Regions from separate parts of the Homo sapiens genome. Here region 1 is linked to region 2. The links come from fine-mapping of genetic effects on gene expression. A gene starts in region 2. The other region holds a variant in brackets. All regions are shown on one strand. Distances are from middle to middle. Region 1 overlaps LINC01607 (long intergenic non-protein coding RNA 1607). Region 2 holds the start of LINC01607 (long intergenic non-protein coding RNA 1607).

Evidence for each region.
Region 1: its variant is fine-mapped to the expression of LINC01607 in caudate (GTEx, PIP above 0.99). The same link has a PIP of 0.9 or more in cerebral cortex, hypothalamus, nucleus accumbens, putamen, skeletal muscle and testis.

Annotation. Positions count from the first base shown.
Region 1 is chr8:79,801,000-79,803,903 of GRCh38, forward strand. It overlaps LINC01607 (long intergenic non-protein coding RNA 1607), which reads left to right. Exons shown (of 4, transcript NR_125410.1): 4 at 1,488-1,843. It overlaps LOC101927040 (a long non-coding RNA gene), which reads right to left. Exons shown (of 6, transcript NR_110954.1): 4 at 1,112-1,198. Among named protein-coding and RNA genes, the nearest start is that of LINC01607, 34 kb to the left of the region's middle. The variant C/A (reference allele first, on the strand shown) is at 1,479.
Region 2 is chr8:79,766,845-79,769,748 of GRCh38, forward strand. It overlaps LINC01607 (long intergenic non-protein coding RNA 1607), which reads left to right and starts at 1,298. Exons shown (of 4, transcript NR_125410.1): 1 at 1,298-1,374. It overlaps HEY1 (hes related family bHLH transcription factor with YRPW motif 1), which reads right to left and starts at 923. Exons shown (of 5, transcript NM_012258.4): 1 at 731-923; 2 at 375-450; 3 at 165-248. The coding sequence starts at 819. LOC101927040 (a long non-coding RNA gene) reads right to left here. Exons shown (of 6, transcript NR_110954.1): 6 at 2,528-2,904. RefSeq lists an enhancer at 446-495 and silencers at 946-1,425, 1,466-1,825, 1,926-2,095.

The sequences.
Region 1 (2,904 bases), 34 kb after region 2:
CTGGTGTAGCTCACAGAAAGGCTGGTTATGACTTGCAGTCATTTAAGTGCAGATGGAGAATAGTTGATATCTTCCTCCTATGATTAATTCTCCCCAAACTTTTCTTTTGACTCTTGATGAAATATTCTCAATGAATTTTTCTTTTTATATCCAATTCTTAGTCCTTCCAGCAATTTTATCATCAAAATCTGTTAATTTTCTATCTCTCCTTGCTGTGGGCTGAATGTTGTGTCTTCCCAAAATTCATTTGTTAAAATCCTAAACCCCAAGTATAATGGTATGAGGAGGTGGGGTCTTTAAGAGGTGATCAGGTCATGAAGGTAGAGCCCTCACAAACTGATTTAGTGCCATTATAAAAAAGGCCCCCAAGAGACCCTCGCCTCTTCTCCCATGTGAGGATACAGAAAAGACAGTGTCGATGAACCAGGAAGGAGGGTCCTCACCAGGCACTGAATCTGCCAGCACTTTTATCTTGAACTTCCCAGCCTCAGAACAGGGAAAAATTAATTTCTATTGTTTATGAGTTATCCGGGTTATGGTATTTTGCTATAGCAGCCCAATAGACTAAGACTCTCCCTGTATAATGTAAGTTCTATGAAAGTAACGACTTTGTCTATTTTGTTCCTTGCTCTATCTTCAGCATCTAGTACAGTGCCTGGCAATAAATATTTGTTCAACAAATGTATGAGCCCATTTTCTATGGGCTTCATTAGGCTGAGATGGGGATGGGAACTAATGTTTAAAATGGGTTCCTATTACAAACAATGAAACAAACATCTCAAGCTCTCCTTCCTACTCACTTTTGTAGGAACTCCATCCCCTCCAGGTCTCTCCTGCTTGTTTCTGAGCATTCCTGGAGATGTTTTCGGTGTGCTCAGGAACAAGTGCTAAAGATGTGGCTACCGCACTGGAAACCTCAACAAGCTAAGGAGGTTCTGTGTTCTCCGAAGCCCTCTGTGCATCACAGCCATGGCTGTAAGCCATGAAGAAAGGGAAAGAGCACCTCCTTCTCGCCTTGTATAACCTCTTGTCACACAGGCACCAAAGCAGTATGACACTGTGCTTTGTAGTTGGAGGTTTTGTAATGAAAATACTTCCCATATTTACTTACATGTCTTATTTCCTCTGGATCCAGACATGAGTACAGGAAGAGCTCATCTGAGGACAAGGAGCAGTATTCAGACTCTCTCCTTCCTCCCTGCTGGACACCAAGACATTCAGATTAGCTGAACTTAGTAGGCCACCTCTTCCTTAGGCTGAGGCACTCCCGTGAGGCTATTCAGTGCCCTCTGCAAAGGAGTCTACTCTCTTAGCCCACTAACCATTACCAGGCTGTCTAGATTCCAACAGTGACCATGTTCAACCTTGAGCTTGAAAGCCACTACAAAATCCTTTCTTATAAATAGAGCTTTGGGTTGGCATAGAAATTTGGCATGTACCTGACCAAGCCTGTGTCTATGTCATTGGTATTTTATGTC[C/A]TATTCTAGGGCTTGTATGTGTCCAGGAAGTCTAGTGAATTCGACCATGAATCCAGACATGGCCAGTGGCTAAATCCTGTGGGAAGACACTGTGCTTCTCTCTGACCCATGAACACTCTGCTAGTCAAGCTCTCTGTCACAAAGACAACTTGAAGAGACAGAGTGGACCTCACAGAAGATACCATCGTCACTCTTACCAATGCAACTGTGGTGAACAGGACCACTATTATTCCTTAGATCAAAAGGACAGCACATTCAACAGCATCCTCATGGCATGCCAGCAATTTGCATAGGATGTTCACAATTAAACTTTGATTATCTAGTGCTTTGTGGATGTATTATGTATTACAGAAATCTATTTGCAACATGGAGGCACATTTTCTCTTTTGTTTGTTCACTTGTTTATCTGAAAATCAACAAATGGTTATAGAATGCCTACTATGTGCCAGGGACTTCTGGTCACAGCCTCAAACAAAAGAGATTCTTCTGTATTCTATTCTTCTGTAGCTTACCATAAATAAGAGCATTCCATAGGTAAGAAAACAGTTAAATAGTAAGATAATTTCACATAATCATAACTTTGGGCCTGATGTGGTGGCTCATGCTTGTAATCCCAGCACTTGGGAGACCAAAATGGGAGGACCACTTGAGCCCGGGAGTTCAAGACAAGCCCTAGCAACATAGTGAGACCCCCACAACAACAAAAATGAAAAAATTAGCTAAGAATGGTGGTGCACACCTGTAGTCCCAGCTACTCTGGAGGCTGAGGCGGGCGGATTGATTGAGCCTGGGAGGTGAAGGTTATGAGCCCAGGAGGTGAAGGTGAAGGTTATTGCTTGAGCCCAGGAGGTGAAGCTAAGATGGTGCCAATGCACTCCAGCCTGGGCAACAGAGCAAGATCCTGTCTCAAAAAAAAAAATTAAAAGCTAAATTTTATGAAAAAATTATAAAAAACAAATTTGATGAAAAAAATTACGCAGAACAATCTAACACAAAAGGTGGCTGGGATTTGCTGGCCTGTGTCATTCACATCCCCCTTGTCCCTTGCAGTTTCTAGAGTACATGCCAGAAAGGTGAAATGCTTGTTTCCCCAACCTCCCTTACTGCTAAGAGAGTAGCAGCCTGACACAAATCCATGGCTCCAAACAAAATACCCTGAGGAGCACTTTCCTGCCCAATAAAATGCAGAGCCAGAGCCACATAAGAAAAGACTTTGATCCTTTAAACTCTCCCTTCTCCTTGTTTGAAACAAAGATATAATACCCAGAGGCACAGCAGCTATCTTGCAATCATGGAGTGATCATCATATGGAAGAATGTCATGATGTTAATGACTACCGCAGAGTAGGAAGCAAGAAGGAGGCTGCATCCCTGCTGTCACTATTGAGCCCTGCAGAGCCTTCACCTAACTACCCTGGACATCTTCA
Region 2 (2,904 bases):
CTAAAGCAAAATCAGTTGTCTTCACAAAATACGCTGGTATCTGTGTACGAATTCATCTAGGCACAAGCAACACAGCTATTTTCCAAGGCGGATGAGATTAATGAGGGGAAGATTCAGAAGGTGCAGATAGCTATGCTGAGAGCTTTACCTACTTGCTCCATTACCTGCTTCTCAAAAGCACTGGGTACCAGCCTTCTCAGCTCAGACAAACTGTTATTGATCCGGTCTCGTCGGCGCTTCTCAATTATCTGCAGAAGGCAAGCAAAACAAAGGAAGGCATTACCATTACGACTGTAAATTTCAAAGACAAAAAAAAAGGTGGTTATTTCCGTTAATCAATAACAAAAATAAAAGGAGAGTGTAAAGAGACTCACTCCTCTCCGTCTTTTTCTGGCCAAAATCTGGGAAGATGTAGTTGGGGACATGGAACCTAGAGCCGAACTCAAGTTTCTGAAAAGAGAAAAAGAACAAACAAAAACTGAAATCGCCGTTAAACGAGGAGAGGTGATCTGAGAGGTCGCCCCCACACCCTCCCCGCACTCAGACTTTTTTTGCCACTTGGGCTGGAAGGCACCTAGGGGTTCCCTGGCCGCAGGCTGCCGCCAGCCTGCGACGCGCGGAGGTCAGCGCAGGGCACCGGCGCGCCAAGGGTCCTAGCCCGCTGTCACCGCGGCAGGCCTGCGCTCGCCTCCCGCTCTGGCTCGGCTCCGCTCCGCCGCCGCCAGCTCACCCATTCTCGTCCGCACTCTCCTTCTCCACCTCGATGGTCTCGTCCAGCTCGCTGTCCGAGGAGCTGTACTCGGGGTGAGCTCGCTTCATGCTGGCTCCCTGGGGGTTCCTGGGGAGGGTCGGCGCGGCGGGCAGGGAGGAGTTAACTACAGCGGCGCCTCTCCGCTCTCGGCTGCTTGCGTTCCGCACACACTGATCCCGCTCACGCTTTGCCTCTGGTTAAAACTCAACCATCCTTTCCCACGCTGAGCCCCTTCCCAGGGCCCTGGGGAGGGCGGGGGAGTGGGGAAGGCGGGCGAGGGGGCGGAGAGGCGGGGCGGCAACTCCAGGGCAACAGCCGCCCCCCGGCCAATCCGGTTTCTCGCGCCGCTGATTGGCAGCCGCTCCGGGGAGGGGCGGGAGCGAGGCCGAGGGCTCTAGCGGACCGCGCCCCCGCCCTCCGCGCCCGCCCCTGCCCGGCGGCGGTGCGTCGGCTCCGCGGGGGCTCTGTCCAGCCTGCACTCAGGGGAAGGAGGAGGCGCGGGCGGCGGGGAGGCGCGGGAGGCCGGGCCGGGACACAAGCCCGCCGGCGGCCGCGGCTCCTCCCCGCCCCGCGCGCCCCGATTGGCCTGGCCGCGCGCCAGGGCCGAGCCTGCAGCGCCTCCGGTGAGCCGCACGCGCCGCGGGCCGTGGGAAAGTGCCGGCGCCGCGGCCGCCAGCCAATCCGGGCGGCCGGCGACGGCGACGGCGGCGGCCGCGCTGGCGGCGGCGGCGGCGGCGCTGGGCGTCCGCATGAATGGAGAAGAATGGGCAGGCGGGGAGCCGGGCCGCGCGAGGGCGCGCCGGCGGGGGCTGGGCGGCCGCCGGCCGGGCCCCCAGTGTGAACCTGTAATCGGAGCCTGGGCGCCGGCCGGCCTCGGAAGCCGCCGCCTAGCGCCACCGTAAATCTCGCCCGCGTGGCCGCCAGTGCCCGGCGGCTGGAGGCGCGCGCTGTTAGTGGGGCCGTGCCGGGTGCACCTGGCCGGGCTGCGCGCCGGCGGCTCCGCGGAACCCGCAGGGAGCCGGGAGAGGGGGCGCCGGGCGCGTCCACAGTGGCCACCAGCCCAGGGGCCGGTCACATGGAGGAGCAAGCTGTGGGCTCAGGGGACGCTCTTTTTGATTTCTGGGACCGAGGCCGCACATGCAGCCAGACTCGTTTCCGCAGGGGCTTCCCAGCCGCGGAATGGAATGAATACCCCTGTGCATCTCATTTCCGGGGAAGGGGAGCACTTGTTTTTTCGGCCGCCTTGGGGAAAAAAAAACCCAACGGTCCCTGGGAATAATCATTATGCTGGGATTTTTTTGTTGTTCCCCCGCTGCCCCCCCCCCCGCCCCCTCCCCCCGGCGGCCAGATCCTCTCAGCGGGCGACAGGGTGGCGGTGCTGGCGTTTGCGTCTGAGGCCGGCCTTGCTGAGGGAATGCACGTCTCTGGCCCCAGACACACACCTCTGGCTTCGGTGGCTTGGCGTGGCGTGTACTGGGTGCCACGTGAAGTCCCCCCCGAGTCCACTAAGAAGACAGATTTTTTAAAAAATACAGTTGTAAATCTCGAAACTGATTTCTGATTCCAGAAACAGAATGGTTGTTTTAAATTTGAAAATCCGGTCTTCTGTCCCTTACAAAGGTACACAGCAATTCGCATTCATCTCAGATCCACTCTGAAGCTTGTAGTCCTGTCTGTGAGGGAAAGCTTAATATCCATCGGTGAGAATAACAAAAGGCGTTTTCTCTTTGCAAAAAGCTTCCTGGTTTCTAGACTTCCTTATTGATCTCAATGCTATTTTTTTTTTGAGATGGTGTCTCACTCTGTCGCCCAGGCTGGAGTGCAGTGGCGCGATCTCGGCTCACTGCAACCTCCGCCTCCCGGGTTGAAGCAATTCTCCTGCCTCGGCCTCCCCAGAAGCTGGGATTACAGACGCGCGCCACCATGCTCAGCTAATTGTTTTTGGTATTTTTAGTAGAAACGAGGTTTCACCATGTTGGCCAGGCTTGTCTCAAACTCCTGACCAAAGGTGATCCGCCTGCCTTGGCCTCCCAAAGTACTGGGATTACAGGCCTAAGCCACCGCGCTCGGCCTCAATGCCATCTTAACACATCCTGGATGCCAAGCACTCTGAGTGGCCGGCCTGGGCCTAATCCATAGTTCCTCTCTGGGCA